2 separate regions of the Homo sapiens genome follow, and region 1 is linked to region 2. The links come from fine-mapping of genetic effects on gene expression. A gene starts in region 2. The other region holds a variant in brackets. All regions are shown on one strand. Distances are from middle to middle. Region 1 has its middle 50 kb from the start of CNTN3. Region 2 holds the start of CNTN3 (contactin 3).

Evidence for each region.
Region 1: its variant is fine-mapped to the expression of CNTN3 in spleen (GTEx, PIP 0.92).

Annotation. Positions count from the first base shown.
Region 1 is chr3:74,660,351-74,668,759 of GRCh38, reverse strand. No RefSeq gene overlaps it. Among named protein-coding and RNA genes, the nearest start is that of CNTN3, 50 kb to the right of the region's middle. The variant C/T (reference allele first, on the strand shown) is at 5,018.
Region 2 is chr3:74,610,133-74,618,541 of GRCh38, reverse strand. CNTN3 (contactin 3) reads left to right here and starts at 3,883. Exons shown (of 23, transcript NM_020872.3): 1 at 3,883-4,151. It overlaps LOC105377166 (a long non-coding RNA gene), which reads right to left and starts at 4,739. Exons shown (of 3, transcript XR_007096257.1): 1 at 4,651-4,739; 2 at 2,095-2,269.

The DNA.
Region 1 (8,409 bases), 50 kb before region 2:
GGTGGTTGGACTGAAATAATTTAAAGCTCTTTCCAAACCTGGTTTCTGTGATGGTAATGAAGAATATATTTATATACCAACATGCACCTAAGAAAGGTTATTTGACTCTCATTTTAGTTACTTATTGTCTAACTAATAGAAGTGGAATTTTACAGAAACAAATTGCACATGTAGGGCATTTTTATTTTTATATACTCTATTAACATATGGTTTCTTTTAATTTCTATCATACGAAGGAAATAACACAGATTACAAATTGTTCCTTAATGTAGAGGCTCATTCCTGTTCATAGAGCCAATTAATGGCAGAAAGGAGAAAAATGCCCACATTTCCTAAATCCCAGAATGTGCTGCCGTTCTTATCTATGCTACTATCAGCAACTTTATGGTCTCAGTCACCTCTCTGTGACACATTAATCAAAGACAAAGCAAAAAGCCAGTCAGACAAGAGAACCAGGGATGAAAAATTGGGTAAAATTGAATTTTAAAAAATATGAGTCTAATTCTGTGGCTGTACCCATAAGACGCAAAATGGAATGATCAGACACTGATCCTCTCGATGTGATTGTTGTGATCAGTCAAATCCAACATAGTCCTTTGGAATGTGACCATGACCAGCTAGCAACACCTGGTTCAGTCAGGTACAAAAGAAGTTCCTCTTCAAAGGTTTGGCTTGTTCAGCGTCCTTGTTCTTTGTTCCCTACTTTGAAGGCCAAACTAACTTCCTTATCCTTTGTGCCTCCCTGTTTCAGTTTCAGAAACACCTTTCCTGCCCATCCTTATCTACACGGCCCATATCTGCTACCCACTCTGTAAATTACCCCTCCTGTCATAACGGCTCTTCCCAACAAAACTGCCCTATCTGCCAGTGTAACCACATTCCTGCACCATTCAAGTTAACCAATCAGGTTCAGCTTAGATTTTGTGGTCCAACTCCAGCCAGTGGAGGTAAGACACAGTAGCAGGGACAAGCCGCATTAGGGATAAAAACCCCTTCCCTCCTTCATTCAGTGTGCTCTTATGGTGACCAAACTTGTGAGCAGCACCCTTTTGCAGAAATAACTTTTGCCTTGCTGAGAAATCCTTTGTTTAAGTGCTCATTTTCTTTGCAACTCCAAGCTTTACTTCTGACAGTTCCAATCCTAGCTCGAGGACTTCTGGACTTTGTGTCCTTCTGCAAATCATTTCTCTTCCTTAATCCTTAATCTCCTCAGCTATTATATAAGGAATATAATTAATAACCACTAAGTACCTGAAAGCCCTAACATTGCTGACCCCCATCAGGGCAACCCAAGCCTCCATAACCTTAACAATACAATGTGGTTTCAGACCTCTCCCTCATATCTCATGGTTTTTGTTAAGATGATTTTAAATAATATCTGTGAAGGAATTTTATAAATTGTGGAGCACTCTATTGTTTGTTTCTGGTTTTTGGGAGTTGATTTGATTGTCAGTATTAATGTTAAGATTTGAAAATCTTCAAATTTGCACTTCTGTTCATATATGTTGCAAACTTCCCCCTCCTTTAAAAACAATCAACTGGTTATCCCTCAGTTACCTATTTTAAACTATTCATCTTTTAAAGAATTCCAAGAGTTATATGTGAATTGTGGATTTCAGCAATGTTTACTTTGAATGCATTGGTAAAAAGCAGTCTTCATTTTTTTATAAATTCAATGGATTCAATGAATGGAAATTATCAAATTCAAGGAATTATACCTATTCTTCATAGACTTCAGCTTGCTCAGAGAAATAACCAAAGTTTTGTCTTTAATTTGTGTCTGAAATTACAGGTTAAAGAGATGATAAAAATTGTTGTTCAATATGTAAATGAATATTTGCAATAGCAATTAGCAGAAAAGAGCTAAATTTAGACTAGCAGCCAATAACAAAATTCGGGAAAAGAAACATAATAAAAAAGTAATACTATCAGAATCAAAATCAGTATATTATGATTATTCCACAGTTCTGTAGCTTTAACATTATTGTTCTCAACTTTTAGTTTAATGAAGGTATGAATAGGTGTATGCCCATGAATCCACTATTACCTGATACTAATCACTTTCTAAAAATTAAAAGATGTTTGTTTCCTATTTTTGCCATAAACTAGAGTCTTTCTATTTTCTCTCCTCTTCTGTTTCTTGTCTCCACCATCTTTGCCTTCTTCTACTCTCTACAGCAATCTGTTTCCTTCTGATAAGTCTCATATCAACTTTTCTACATGATTCTGAATGTGATGTGTTACATAATCCTGGCAAAGAGAGATAGGGAGATTACTCCTGGAATTCAGAGTGAAAGTGGAAATGGCTCAGGGTCACTTGTGATGCAAGTGTCACAATGTATTCCACAGATCCATTTAATTCACCCCCGTATCTAAACTAAGAATCACCTGTAATATAATGGGAATGGCCATAGATTGGGAGTCAGGACACCTGTCATTGCAACTCATTTACTGCAAGACCTTGGAAAAATCACCTTGCCTCTCTGTACCCATATTTGTCTATCTACTATGTGGCACTCCTTCTTTCTTAATATCTTGCAGGCCAATGATTTGCACACTTCAGATTATTTAAGAGTCACCTGAGAAAAGTGTTAAATACAGATCTGGGGGCTCTCTTTCCAAAATATTCTAATTTAAAAGACCTAGGATGTGGCCTGGGAAATCAACAAGCACTTGAGGTAGCCCTGATGTAAGGAATACATTAGGTTTTTTTGTTTGTTTGTTTTGTTTTGTTTTTAAATTAATTTATAAATTTATAATAACCTGTCCTTGGCTTCTTATAAATGGAATCATTCATATATGATTGGGAAGTCTGGCTCCTCGTATGCAGCATAATGCCTTTAGTATTGATCCATGATATTGATAAATAGTGTTGTTCAAGTCTTCTGTTTTGTTATATTTTAAGTCTGTTTCATAAAAAATAGCATATACTTGGAGCTTGCTTTTATATCTAGTCAGAGAATGTCTGAATTTTCATCAGTGTTAGATCATAACATTATTAACCAAACTAAACAAAAAATTAGGTCCCTATGAACATATTTTGATAAATGTAGAAAAATGTGCCGAGTGCACATCTAGTGCTGTATATTTTCCACTTTTTCTGGCAATGTTGTTGTGTCAACTTAGTATTCCTGACAATAGTTGGTTAGGAGAACAATGAAAATATGTATCTATAAACTGGTGTTGATGTTGCACCATAGTTTTATAGGTTTCACTATGAAGCACAGGCATACACAACCTACAGAAAGTATTATTGGTAAGAATATGTCTTAAAACAGAGAGGAAGTTGGAGGCATTTACAAATCTGTCAAGTTTATAAGCCAAACGAATAGACACAGTTGTCAAACTAAATCCAATAATTTTATTTTAAAAGTATCCTTAAAAATAAGAGATATGTTAATAAACTAATAAGACCAGAGCTAAAAGACCCAAATGAAAAGAAAAAAATAAGTATTGCCAGTGGAAAATTTTTAACTAAAAAAAAAGGCAGTGGTTGGGATAACACAACGGAAATGACTTTTGGGAAGTTATGATAATAGACTCTATTTTCCAAGAGTAGTTATTAACTATATCCCAGAATTAGTGATTAATTTTACATATAAGATTATGTTTAAATCCTTTGTCTAATATAGTAAATCTTTAGTTTGAAAATGGAAATATTCCATTTTCTTCAGGAATGTCTAATTTACTAAGTATCAGAATGAGGCTTTTATTACTCAATATGTTCAATAATATTTGTGAACTGATTTTCTAAATCCTTAATATCTGTGGTTATTATAAACAAAGGAAGCATTCAAAGGGGATTAGAAATATGTGAGTGAATTACCATTTAAATAAATTTGATTCAGCCCAGAAGGGACAATAGAAAGACTTTCGGTCTCCATAAATCCACTTTAATGTCAGTAAACAAATGGCCCAAAGTAGTTTTATCTGGTTCTGGCTGTAAAGGGTGAAATGCAAGAAACAAGACTGGGAAAACGGTCCTTTCTGTATTGCAGCCAGAAAAAGGGAGCTGGCTTCGATTGTGTGCCAGTATGATTTTAGCTCCTTAGCATAAATGTTATCTGTTTGTATAATCTCCTAACTTAATTTATTCATCCATTTTAATATATTTCTAAAATGTAGTTTCCATACATGGCCTCAATTTGTTTCTGAAATGGTCATAATAAAAAGCTCCGAACTAGTATTATAAATGACTACAATGGAACTTTAAATGGTACCATTTAAAGATTCAAAATATGTTGCCCTTCTTAATGATTCAAATTCTGTTAAATTATGTTCATGCTGTTTACTGATTTGTATATTAGAAGAAGGCAAGCATATATATATAAACATATATATATGTATATATGTTATAACATAGAAAGTTGACAGAACTAAAGCAAAGGAGGGGTAGTTAATGATGATAGTGCTGATAATACCAGATTCATGTATCTGATGCTTGTAATAATAATAATATAGTACGTAACATACGGCTCATAGTTCTATATCTCCTGCTGTATGATCATTGTCTCAATTAATCTCCACAACTCTATAAACTATCATTCTTATTACCCCCATTTTACAGTTAAATAAACTGAGGCACAGAAGGATTGGGCTCCAACAGCCAGTCTCTAGAGCACATATTATATAATGTAGGTAAATGGCTGTTTATTTCCAGTGTCTAGCACATAGTACGATCTCAAAATTTATCTTGGAGGATTAAATGATTTGAAAGATTTGAATGATTAATTTTTTTCCAAATTTATGCAGTAGTCCTCATGTTGGTGTTTCTATATCAAAAGCCAAAATAAGATTAATCCATTGCATTAGTTCTGCTTTTTTCATTCAATTATTGACTTTTAGCTATAAAAGTATCTATACTGAGGCAATGTTTCTCTATATATAATACAACTTTTTATTTGAAAGTAATTTTGGATTCTCAGGAAAGTTGCAAAGATAGTAGAGCAATTTTCTGAATAACCTTCATCCAGTTTCCCTAATGTTATCTTGAATAATAGCAAGTATAGAACATTTG[C/T]CAAAATTAAGAAATTAACATTGGCTCAACACTATTACAATTTAACCTCAAACTGTATTTGGATATCAGGAGCTTTTCCACTAATGAGCTCTTTATGTACTAGGCTCCAATCCAGAATACTGCATTATGTTTAGTCTTCTCTAATCTGTGGCAGTTTGCCAATCTTTTCTTGTTTTCCTTGATATTGACAGTTTTGAAGAATATTAGATTTTTGGTAGAATGTCCCTTAATTTGGTTTGTCTGGTGTCTTCAAAGGATTAGGCTGGGTTATTGGTTCCGAAGAAGAATGCCAGAGAGGTGAAGTGCCCAACTCATGACATTACATCATGGGGTACATAATATCAATTTAAGTTACACAGAGTATGTTAACCTTGATCATTCGGTCAAAGTATTATTTGTCAGGTTTCATCATTGTAAAGCTATTCTTTTTTCCTGTTCATAACCTATTCTTTGGAAAAGAGATACCAGGTCTAACTCGTAGTGGAGAATTAATCTCCACTTCCTGGAAGGGAAAATATCTACATATATTATTTGGAAAACTTCTGCAAGGATGATTTGTCCTTTATTAAAGAATGCCTCATTTGCACCTGAAAAGAGAATGAAGGAAGTCAAGAAAACTGGGGAGAAAAACATTATCATAAATTTTGTAAATATGATCAATCACTGTGGTCAATTTAGAAATTTGATCATGCTACTGGAGTGGCCCTTTCCAATATTCAGCCACTGAGCACATTTTCTACTCAAATCTCAAAGCTCTCTGTCCCCAAGAACCTGGGGAAAAAATATATGTCCTCTCATACTCAGCTACATTATTTATTGTCTTCTAAGACCTAACCTAAAGAAAAAACGTAAAAGCTTTGTATTCCCAATATGACTAAGCTATCAAAAAGAGTGAGGGGAGCAAGAATGGGGCAGATAAAGGAGATGAGCAGGAGGTGGTCTCAGTTAAGTCTAGGCTTGACCTGGTCCACAGTGGGCTCTGGATGTAGTTTCTATCAACTGAAGCAGTGTCTTTGGAGAAGGGCGTAGCTGCCAGCTGTTAGTTGCCACCATTCACAGTAGCTGTTAAATGGGTGCACTTGGCTGTAAAAGCAGAATCTAGGTGGGAAACCAATGGCATCCATTATGTTGTATGCTTCACTTCTCAATTCAAATGACTAAATATTTATGAAGAATAAATTATGCTCCATGTAGATAGATGTAAGGTGTTATAATAGATATCACATACATGATTTTATGTAATTGAGGCATGGTTCCAAAACTCTGGAAGAGATTAATAATACACTAAATGTTAATAATTGCCTTCCTTTATGTTTTTCATGTGTATATATACACACATATTTACATATTGCATATTTGTGCACATATATAATGTATATATTACATAACATAAAATGTATACATTATATATAATATATAGTGTGTGTATTAGTTTGGAGAATTATTTGTTTTTTTCCCTTGCAGAAAACAGGCAGAAACCTATTTTGAATGGATATCGTCAAAAATAATAAGACAAATTTTAGAAAGTAGATTAAGATTCAATGATTTCCAGCGGAAAATCCTCCAAAGCACTAGAGTATATTTTTCACAATCTCTAGAGTACTAAGAACAAAACATAATTCTTTATGTGAAAAGCACATGCCATGCTTTTCTTGTGTAAATGGCATGAAATTACCCTTATAAATGGGGTATCTGATAGCAAAAAGGAATCATGTTTGTTTAATCCAAGCATTCAAGATAGATGGTTCAGCATTAAAAGAATTTGGAAACCAATGTCTTCAAACAACAAGTGCATGAGTAGCCACCAGTGCATATCTTGTGACTGAAGAAATGTATAAAGATCTGTTGTGCAACAATAAATCAACCCTTTAGAGAAAACAGGAAGTGTCAGGGATTGTAACTAGGTCAGATACAGAATATAAATTCTATCACTTCCTGGTTACTAGGAAGAATTTGTGCTCTTCTGAGCATGGAGAAGTGAGGTGATTTTAGGATAGAAAGGTGCTAACACCAAGTAGCATTTATTTTAAAGTCTCAAAGGCTCAAAAGAGAGAAAACACCTCAAAGTTTTGAAGAAGTAACTAAATTTATGCCACAATTAATAACTGCCCGTAAGTGTAGAGACCATGCCGGATTAGAGTGGTGTCCTTATGACCCAACTGAGGGCTGGAAATGTAGGATATTCTCCAATATCAGCTGAATGAATTAATGTAGGAATAAATGAATGAAAATATACCAGGAAGCTGTAGACTGATCATCTTTTCCTTTGCTCCTATAAATCTAAACAGCCACATTGCTTAGCAGGCTTAAGTCTGTGCTAATTCTGCAAATAGCTACCTCTGTGACCTTAATCAACAGCCTTAACCCCATGTAGCCCTCCTGTTTCATCTGCAAGATAAGTTATTCAAAAAGAGTTCAAAGGTCTTCAGCATATCTAAGATTTGAAAATTTGCTCTTTAATCAGAACTATCATCTTAGTGCCAAGAAGGAGAACATACGGCAACAATGAAGAACAGTATTGTAAAGCCACTAAGTACATGGACTGGGATTCCAGAATGGTCAGACAGATATGGTTTGAGCTCCATGTCTGACGTCTTCTAGCCTTATGATCTCAAGGCGGCTATTTAACAGTTCTTTATTTATAAAATTCAGATGTGATGAAGATTACATAATTTAATTATGTAACATAGCTAGCATAATGTCTGGCACATAGTGAATACTCTCTTTTGTTACTATGGCTGCTGTCAGAGTTGGAGACAGTAAGGTGTAGTCCATCCAAGCAGAATTGTTGTCTTTGCTTTCCTAAGACCAGATACTTTTTTTGTTCTCCAAACTAATAGTGTCATATGAAGTCAGTGTTCTAAGAGCAGACACAAATAATTTAAATACTGTTCTCAAGAATAATTATACAAAAGTAATGAAACCTGGCCAGCCAGGTGACTCACACCTGTAATCCCTGTACTTTGGGAGGCAGAAGCTGGAGGATTGCTTAAGCCCAGAATTTCAAGGCCAGCTTTGGAAACAAAGTGAAACCCTGTCTCTACAGAAAAAAAAAAAAAAAAAAAAAAAAAAAAAGGATTAGTGGGGTATGATGTTGGCATGCATCGGTGTTCCCAGCTACTCGGGAGGCTGAAGTGGGAGGATTGCTGGACCCCCAAAGATTGAGTCTGCAGTGAGCTGTGATCACACCACTGCATTTCAGTCTGGGCAACAGAGTGAGACCCTGTCTAAATACATATATGTATATACAAAAGTAAGAGAACCCAAGAGATTGTTGTTATGACCCCTACCTCCACATGCAGAGGTTTGTAGGTTCTTTGATAGTGTAACTATTCCAGGTCAAAAATAAAGATTTTATGTGTGACATTATTCCCCTAGGGAAAGTAGAAGCC
Region 2 (8,409 bases):
GAGATAATATAACAGTATCATACACCCTACAATTTAATCACAGCATCTAGATATAAACTAGAACTTTGGATCAGTACCATGGTGATAACAATAAGACTTCTATTTCCATATGTGGAAATTAAGACTCCCTAACCCCTTTTATAGAAAAAGATGTGTTTAACTTAGTAGCTTGGCTATATTCCAATTTATACTTTTACCTAAGAATTTCAGTCTTTGGGTTTAGTAGATATTTTTCTTCATTTCCCTTTGCTACACAATAAACATGCAAACAAATAACTGTTATGTGGTGTCACTGGCATGAAATAGCTTCTATATTCCAACACAGATGGGGTATCTTAATAATGGGAAGATGATCTCACACTTTAAAGTGCTTGATATAAAAGGTGCCATATAAAAAGGAAGTTATTATTATTAGTTATAATACCCTAAAAAAGGGATTTGCCATCTAAATGGCTGCTGAAACTTAACTGCAGAATTGCTTATAATGCTACAATCAGTTGAGGCCAAATTCAATAAAAATTCCATCCGGCATTCACACTGAGAAGACCCACATGTGCCTTTAATTTTTTTTTAATTTCCTGGGCTTCCGGCCCAGAAATTGGATGGAAATTGTATTGAAAACTGCCCTTGTGTATCAACTTTTGGTAAATACCAGGCTTTCAGTTGACTCACATTATGCTTTACATTTTGGGCAAAGGGAGGGTATAAAATGATTCACGTCTCTCTATATACATATATTTATACACCTTTTACCTGTCTATGAGACTGTGGCTTATATTAAATGTTCATCATTATTTCTACAATTTTTAGGATCTGCCAGCCCCCACCAACCCCCCCACTGCAACCATAAGACTCAAAATTCCATTAAATCCCTTTCCAGCACTAATCAGCTTTTACTAGCACAGGCAATGTAATCTGAGTTTAGAAATGACTAATTATTTGGAGAGGGCTGGAAGGGGTTAGGGTTTAGATTTCTTTCTAATTTAAAGGAGCTTCTTTCCTGTCTTTCTCCCTGTCATTTTGCTGCCTGTGGCCAGCTCCCCCTCCTTGATGAAAATGCTCTTTCCCTTCCCATTAGACAAGGTATATATGTATGTATTAGAAGAAAAATGTATTAGGAGACATCAAGTTGAAAATATTAAAAGAAGAGCCATGCCTGTGATGGATGTGGGCATGGCAGTAATTGCACCTGCTAGGGGCAAGGCATGGGCATAATTTGCATGTAAAGTTCTCTCGGCTCCTTCCAGAACACACCAGTTCTACCCAATAAAACATTTTGTCACCTGCAGGGGGTTTGCCAACATGTTCCCAGATTGCAAGCAAAAAGATTATTTACAGTAACCAGTAACAACTGAAACAACCATAAACAACCTTTCTGTACCTGTTCTATTTCTTTTTCCTTTGGCTAAGTAGAGGAAGCTTAAGGAGTCCAAATTTACTGCAATTTAATTCTGATGGGGAAAAAGCACATGATTTTTATTTATAGCAGCGTGCTCTATCTATTCCTGTCTCCCCCAACCTCTTTTTAAAACATAAATAACCCCGGAATTTTTTGTAATCCAGCTATTACTCTTGTAGGGATGAGCAGTTTCCTGATAAAGTGAGAGAGGGCAAATGTGGCCAGAAGTTCCCTAATGTATTCAAGAATCCTGTTGTATGCTCATAGAGTAAGGGGGACTAGGGAAAAATCACCTGGTCAAGCCATTCATGCAATTTCTTTTTTTGTTATTGTTGTTGTTCTGTTTTGAGATAGGGTCTTGCTCTGTCACCCAGGCTGGAGTGCAGTGGTTCAATCATGGCCCACTGCAGCCTGGACCTCCCAGGCTCAAGCGATCTCCTCCTGCCACAGCCTCCCAAGCAGCTGGGACTGCAGACACACACCATCATGCTCAGCTAATTTTTAAATTTTTTGTTGAGAGGCGGTCTCACTGTATTGCCCAGGCTGGTCTCAAACTCCAGGGCTCAAGGGATTCTCCCACCTCAGTCTTCCAAAGTACCAAGCAACTTCTTTGTGGCAATTGGAAATGCAGGGGGCCTACATGCTGACTTTGCTGTAGGGAGCGGCACCTTGCATCTGACTGACCTGGGTCTTACCTCTTGTCCTCAAACCCCCTCTAGGAGAGTTTTTCCAGAAGTTCAGATTTCATTCTGAATTGCAGAGGACCACGCACGTATCTCTTGAGAAAATGATCAAACGTGAGAAAGTGCAGTTAAACCAGGCCTGGTTTGCCCAGGTTGCTTCTCTTGATGAGGTGTTGCTTCATTCCATCTGCAGGAATCACAGGGAGAGGATCAAGGAGAGGAAACAGGGCCATAAACTGTCAAGTCTAATTAAATGTGACTAGATTATTTAATATGAAGGGACAACGTGATACATTTTAAAAACAATGTCAGAGAATTATAAAATGAAAAGTATAAAGTCTCCTCTGCTCCAATTTCAGTCTCACTCACTAGGACTAACAATTGTTAACAGTATCCTTAGACATCCTTTCAGAAATTGTGAATGCATAAATATGGATACATACACACAAAAGGGTGCGTGCGTGTGTGTGTGTGTGTGTGTGTGTGTGTGTGTGTGTAAGTGCTTGTAAGCACAAAAACGGTACAGGTACCAACTTTCCTGTGCCGATCAACAGTACATGTCCCAAGTTCTCCTAACAATACCGTTTATTTATTTTTTTATTTATTTAGAGACAGGGTCTCCCTCAGTCTTTTGGTCTGGAGTGCTGTGGCACAATCATGGCTCACTGCAGCTTCCACCTCCTGAGCTCGAGTGATCCCTCAAGTGCTCCTCCCACCTCAACCTCTCAAGTAGTTGGGACAACAGGTGCGTGCCATGACGCCCACCTAATTTAAACTTTTTGTTTGTTTGTTTTTTGCAGAGACAAAGTCTCCCTATGTTGCCCAGGCTGGTCTCAAACTCCTGGGCTCAAGAGATCCACCTGTCTTGGCTTCTCAAAGTGCTGGGATTACAGGAGTGACCCACCTCCGCCCAGCCTCTAAGGATACCTCTTGGAGGTCATTTATGCCAATACTAGTAGATGCACCTTTCTCTCTGCCGCTGTATGTCTCCACTGTATTTTATCAGCCACTCTCCTAATGAAGGACAGGTAGGTTGTTCCCAACTGTTTTTCGTACAACTAAAGTTGCAGTGTTTGCACGGGTTTGACTGGAAGTAAGTCACCAGCGGTTCAGCGCAAAGGCTCAGGACTGCAACAGGCTTATTCAAGTCCGGGTTCTCCAACCCACCACTGTGTGTATACTTGGGCAAATAAAGGTGGTAAGATCTACTTCACAGGGTCCTTGACAGAATATAGTTGCGATTATTCTCACAACTGACTCATTGAAACTTTAAGCAAACCAATTTCCTCATCACTAAATCCGGGAATAATAATAGATCCAGGTTGCTCTGGGGACTGCATGAACTAATTGATTTAGCGCAGTCCACGACCTGCTACCTAGTGAGCCCTTAATAATTATCCGCTTTAATATTAAAATTGGCAATCTTTGCGCACTTGTGGGAGCGCAGCTGCAGGAGGCTTTTCTAGAAGTGGAATTCCTGCCTTAACCCCGTGTTCCGAGGGCCCTAACTGCGTGGCACGAGGCCACCCGGAGGTGACACGGTGACCGCCGCCCAGCCCGCGCCGCCGCCCAGGGCCCTGCGGAGGCCGGACACACGTGGGTGCACGCGGCCGAGCGCAGGGCCGCGCGGGGTCCGGCCGGCGCAGAGGCGCTGGGGGCGCCGCAGACGCGAGGCTCGGGACCCAGTTGGCTGCTCCGCCGCGCTCCCCGCCCCTCCCTCCCTCCAGTCCGCCCGGTCTCCCCTCCCTCCAGCGTCCGCGTCGGAGCCGGAGCCGGAGCCGGAGTGGCGGAGGCACGGGCAGTGCTCGCTAGGCGCCGGCAGCAGCCACAGCAGCCTGGCGCTTGGCGGCGGCGGCGGTGGCAGCGGCGGGCGGGCTGGCGCCGTGGACTGGGCCGGGAACCGTGCGGACGAGGGTGCTGCGCCTGCGGCGGCGGCGGCTTACGCGGGCGCGCACGGCGGCCCCCCGGGCCCGGACTAACTGCGGCGGCGGCGGTGGCGGCGGCGGCGGCGGCGGCGGCGGCGGCGAGTGGGCCGTCGGGGCGGGCGTCTGGCGAGCTGCAGAGACCAGGTAAGTCCGGGATGCCCGACTCCTGGCGCCGGCCGGGCCACAGGGATGAGCCACCTGCCAGGGCAAACTTTACGCCCTGGCTTCATGGCTCCTCAGCCCCGAAGTTTGTTTGCAGGGAAATGCACCTGACGGGTCGAGAATAAAAGATGCTTCTCTCATCGGACTTGCTCTGGGGAGATTATTTTTCCCCTTCTGGGGCGAGGATTGGTTTCGGGTTGGGAAGGCTGCATCCCCAGCTGGAGCGCTGAAAATTGAGTGGTAGGTCCCTTGGGCTTGCCCTTCGCGCAGTGGATTTGACCAGTTAAAGTTGGGGGAAAAAAGTTGTGACTCCTAGGGATGCTGAGGAACAATTCCAGGTGCATGATGCAGAATGTGGGAATGTGATACCTCTTTGCTGGAACCACCCCCCAGGCCCAGATTCCCAGGTCTGAGAAAGCTAGGGTGGCCGATTCTTTCATTAGCGATCAAGTTTTCTAAGCTGCATTTTCTTTCTACTCACAGATCAGCAGCTTGGGACGGAGTTCCCCGTCGCGTTTATTTGTCAGGTTTACCCTGCTGCGCTGTAGTCCAGGTTTCCTGAGCTCGGACCCTGGTTTCAGCTGTTTCTGTGTTCTCTGAGGAGCCTGCAAAGCTAACCAAGCAGGTAACAGAATAGCAGAAACAGAAAACCAGGAAGTGCCAACCGGGCACCGGGGTCATAGCACCATCAGGAATTTTTTCTGGTCGCGTGAAATGAACGAACAGCTTCTGGGCTCTGCTTGTGCAAAGCTCCGTACAACTCTCCAATCCGTATGTCTTTCCCTGTATTGCATTTGCTTATTGATTTACAACAAGGAGATGTGTCCAGAGGTATTATTTAATAACAAACGGTGTCCGCTACGGTAAGGACAGCAAACCTCCTTTCAGAGGCAAAGAAAGGGGAACAGAGCTCTGGGAAAGGGGTAGCCAGTCTGCTAACCTCAACCCAAGATGCAGGGAAACAGAGCTAGAAAAAGCAACAGACAAGGAGGGCGTGATGTGCAGGAGGGAGGTCAGAAACCCCAGCTCATATGGTGAGTAGGTAAATCCAGAAATAATTTTAAAATGATTAAGCAAGAATAACTAAAAAAAAAAAAAAAAAAGTAGGAAGACTGTACGTGCTGTGGTTTCTGTCTACCCCCACAGAGATGAATATCACACTAGCTGAAAAAGAATCCTGATCTGTAAATAGATTAAAAACAGGAATTAATCAGAACAATGAGTCAGAGCCCTTCAGAGATTGAAAGGAGGAGTAATTGCCTTTGAAAGAGCTTATATCTCAATATCAAGTCAAATGTGTTACTTTTGCTTTGCTAGATGTGTTTACTAACAGTAACCTGACTTTGGCTGCAGTAACCTGGCATCTTGGTTCATGGTTTTAACCATTTGTGGGTCATGGGACTAGGGAGAAAGTTGACTGCAGGTTAATATTCATATCAATTTGTGCAACATTTGTAAGATGCCTAATACGTGCATGTCACTGGTTGCAATGGGAGAGGTCCTTGTGAATGTTCATTAAAGAAATCTGATCGGGTTCAGCCTCACTAAATGGAAGGATGTTGGCTTGCAAATAATAAAGAGTGGGGTTGGGAATTATTGGTCTTTGAATACTTGCTTGAAATTAGTTGAGAGTAAACATGTGGTTTGAGGACCCCCAAAATGATCAGTATCCACCAGGGAAATATAGCAAATTGCTGTACACTTTTATAAGATGAATAGTAAGGCTGAATGCATGCAAGTGGCCCTTCTGTCTAAAAGTAGGATAACCGAGACACCGAGTGTCTAATTGATATGCAGGGTAATAGATTCAGGCTGTGGCCGCCACAGACAATAACATTCAGCCTCATGTCCTCCTCACTGTCTGGATGTCATTAATGTCAGCCCGAAGACATGAAGATGTTAAGTTCATTTCTCCAGGAGAACTCTAACTTTTAAATATTCTTCACAACACAACCAGATAGCCCAAGTGTACCTTAAAATGGCAACAAAGCATTTAATAGGAGCAAAGTGCTGAGCACTTTCAAGTAGAGAGAAGATTAGCCGTGGACAACAAGCTGTAGCCTTTCCTTTGCTGATTTATGTTCAATTTTATCACTGTCACATTTCATATATGCCCAGTTATTACAAACTAATAGCCTCTTTTCTCTGCTTGCAAAATATGCATCTTTCTCTTTTACAAGTTCCTAACTCCTTCTCACACATTCAGTACACATCTTCCAGCTTTGTTTTTACTGCAAAATTTAAGTGTCCAACTTGAAGTTCTCATTAACTCTTAATATGGTTCATGCTGAAATAGTATATAGATATAATTGCTGCTTCCAAACTGTCAGATCTGTATATCGCTATACTGTGGCAATACTACAAAACAGAGAAGCTTTGACTGGTTTCCAATCACCAGTTAGTAAGTTGTTAGCAGTAAAACTAATGTTAATTTTATGTAGTGGAATATATTCAGATGGCAGGAGGATTTATTGATGCTGTGCATGTTTGCCTGCTGTCTCTGATTTAGTTGTCACCACCAGTCTGCCTTTAAGCCTTCTTATCTTAGCAAGGTACTTTGTCTCTATGAAGGTGAGCATCTTTAAGGTGCTCACTTGTAGTTTTTAATATGCACACATGCATATGCATATACTTTTAACATGCATATATAATTAATCACTTAATGCTGGTGGACAGTTTCCTTTCTTATGCTTGAAAAAAGTGCAATGGAGAATATCATTGTTGCAAAGATAGTTGGCAAGAGAATATGGGGCCACGGAACAGTTTAAGATAGAACATTTCTTTGAAATTGAGGGGTGACAGATCTCATTCTCATATCCAATTTGTATAAACATTTCAGAAATGGATCGAGTGTTGTAAATGGTTTTTATCTTATAGTCTCCCCTGCACTCATCTCTTAAACACAGTGGGACATTTCTTTGGAAAAATTGCTGCAGGAGAAATGCACTCCCTGGTTGAAACTTTGTATGCCAAGTTTCAATCCATAGTACATTTTTATTTTCCCCCTTTTATGTACATGTTATAAACAAGAAATAAGGGTTTGTAATAGAAGTGCTGGCAGAACTTTATAGCATTTCAAACAGCTTTGCTACTTGGAATGTAAATATTTGTAGAATCTTTACTGTGCAAGAACCTGCCTTGCAAGGAATGAGGAAAAATGACTATTTTCTTAAGTAGGATAAAATAATTCAGTGAGTTTGCATATTTCTTGTTGCAGACCTATTGGCATTTGAAGACATAGATTATCTATGTTGTAGTGATTCCATAGCATTCTCTTAGGTGCCTTTATAACTCAGCTTGTAAATTTCCTATGTTCTAAAACAAGAGAACAATTTTGTCCCATTTGTTTTTTAAGTCCCTTGACTTTGATTACCTTTCAGATGTTAAGATATGAGATCCATATTTCAAAACTGCTTGATTATATTACTGATAAATGAGGCTGTCAGTATACTGTTTTAATAGGGTAAATCTTGACACCATCACAATACTTCAAGTGCTTTTATTTTGGGGAACTAGTACAACTCAGACCTTATATGTCCTTTTGGTTCTAACCCTGAAATATCTCTCACATTCGCCCACTTCCCTCCATGTTCACCCACGTCCTCCTTCTCCAAGTCCCCATCTTCTCTCCTGGGATAACTACACTGGCTTCCTTGGCTCCTTTCGTACTTCTTCCCCCAAATCATCCTGCATAGCAGCCAAGACTTCTTTTTTTTTTAATGTAAGTTAAATTAGTACTCATCTACTCAGAATGCTTAAATGGCTTTTCATTGAACTCAGAATAAAATCCAAACTATTAAATATTACCTGCAAGGCTGTGTGGGATTTAAACACTACTGTCCCTTTGACAATTCCTAGCAAGCTTTTAGGAACAAGAGCTTCTTAGACCCTTTTTCATTTCTGCAGATGTGTTGAGCTCTTTCCTATGTTAGGGATCATTCTGTTCTTTTGCCCAGTAGCCCTGTCCAGCCCTAACGCCTAAACACACATACGCACACACGTGTGCACACACACAAACTCACAGGGTTTTTTTTTTCATTTTTGTTTTTTTCGACAGGGTCTCACTCTGTCACCCAGGCTGGAGTGCAGTGGTGCGATCATGGTTCACTGGAACCTCGACCTCCTGGGCTAAGTGATTCTCCCACCTTAGTCTCCTGAGTAGCTGGGACTATAGACACACACCGCCATGCCCTGGCTAATTTTTGGATTTTTTGTAGAGATGGGAATTCACCATGTTGCC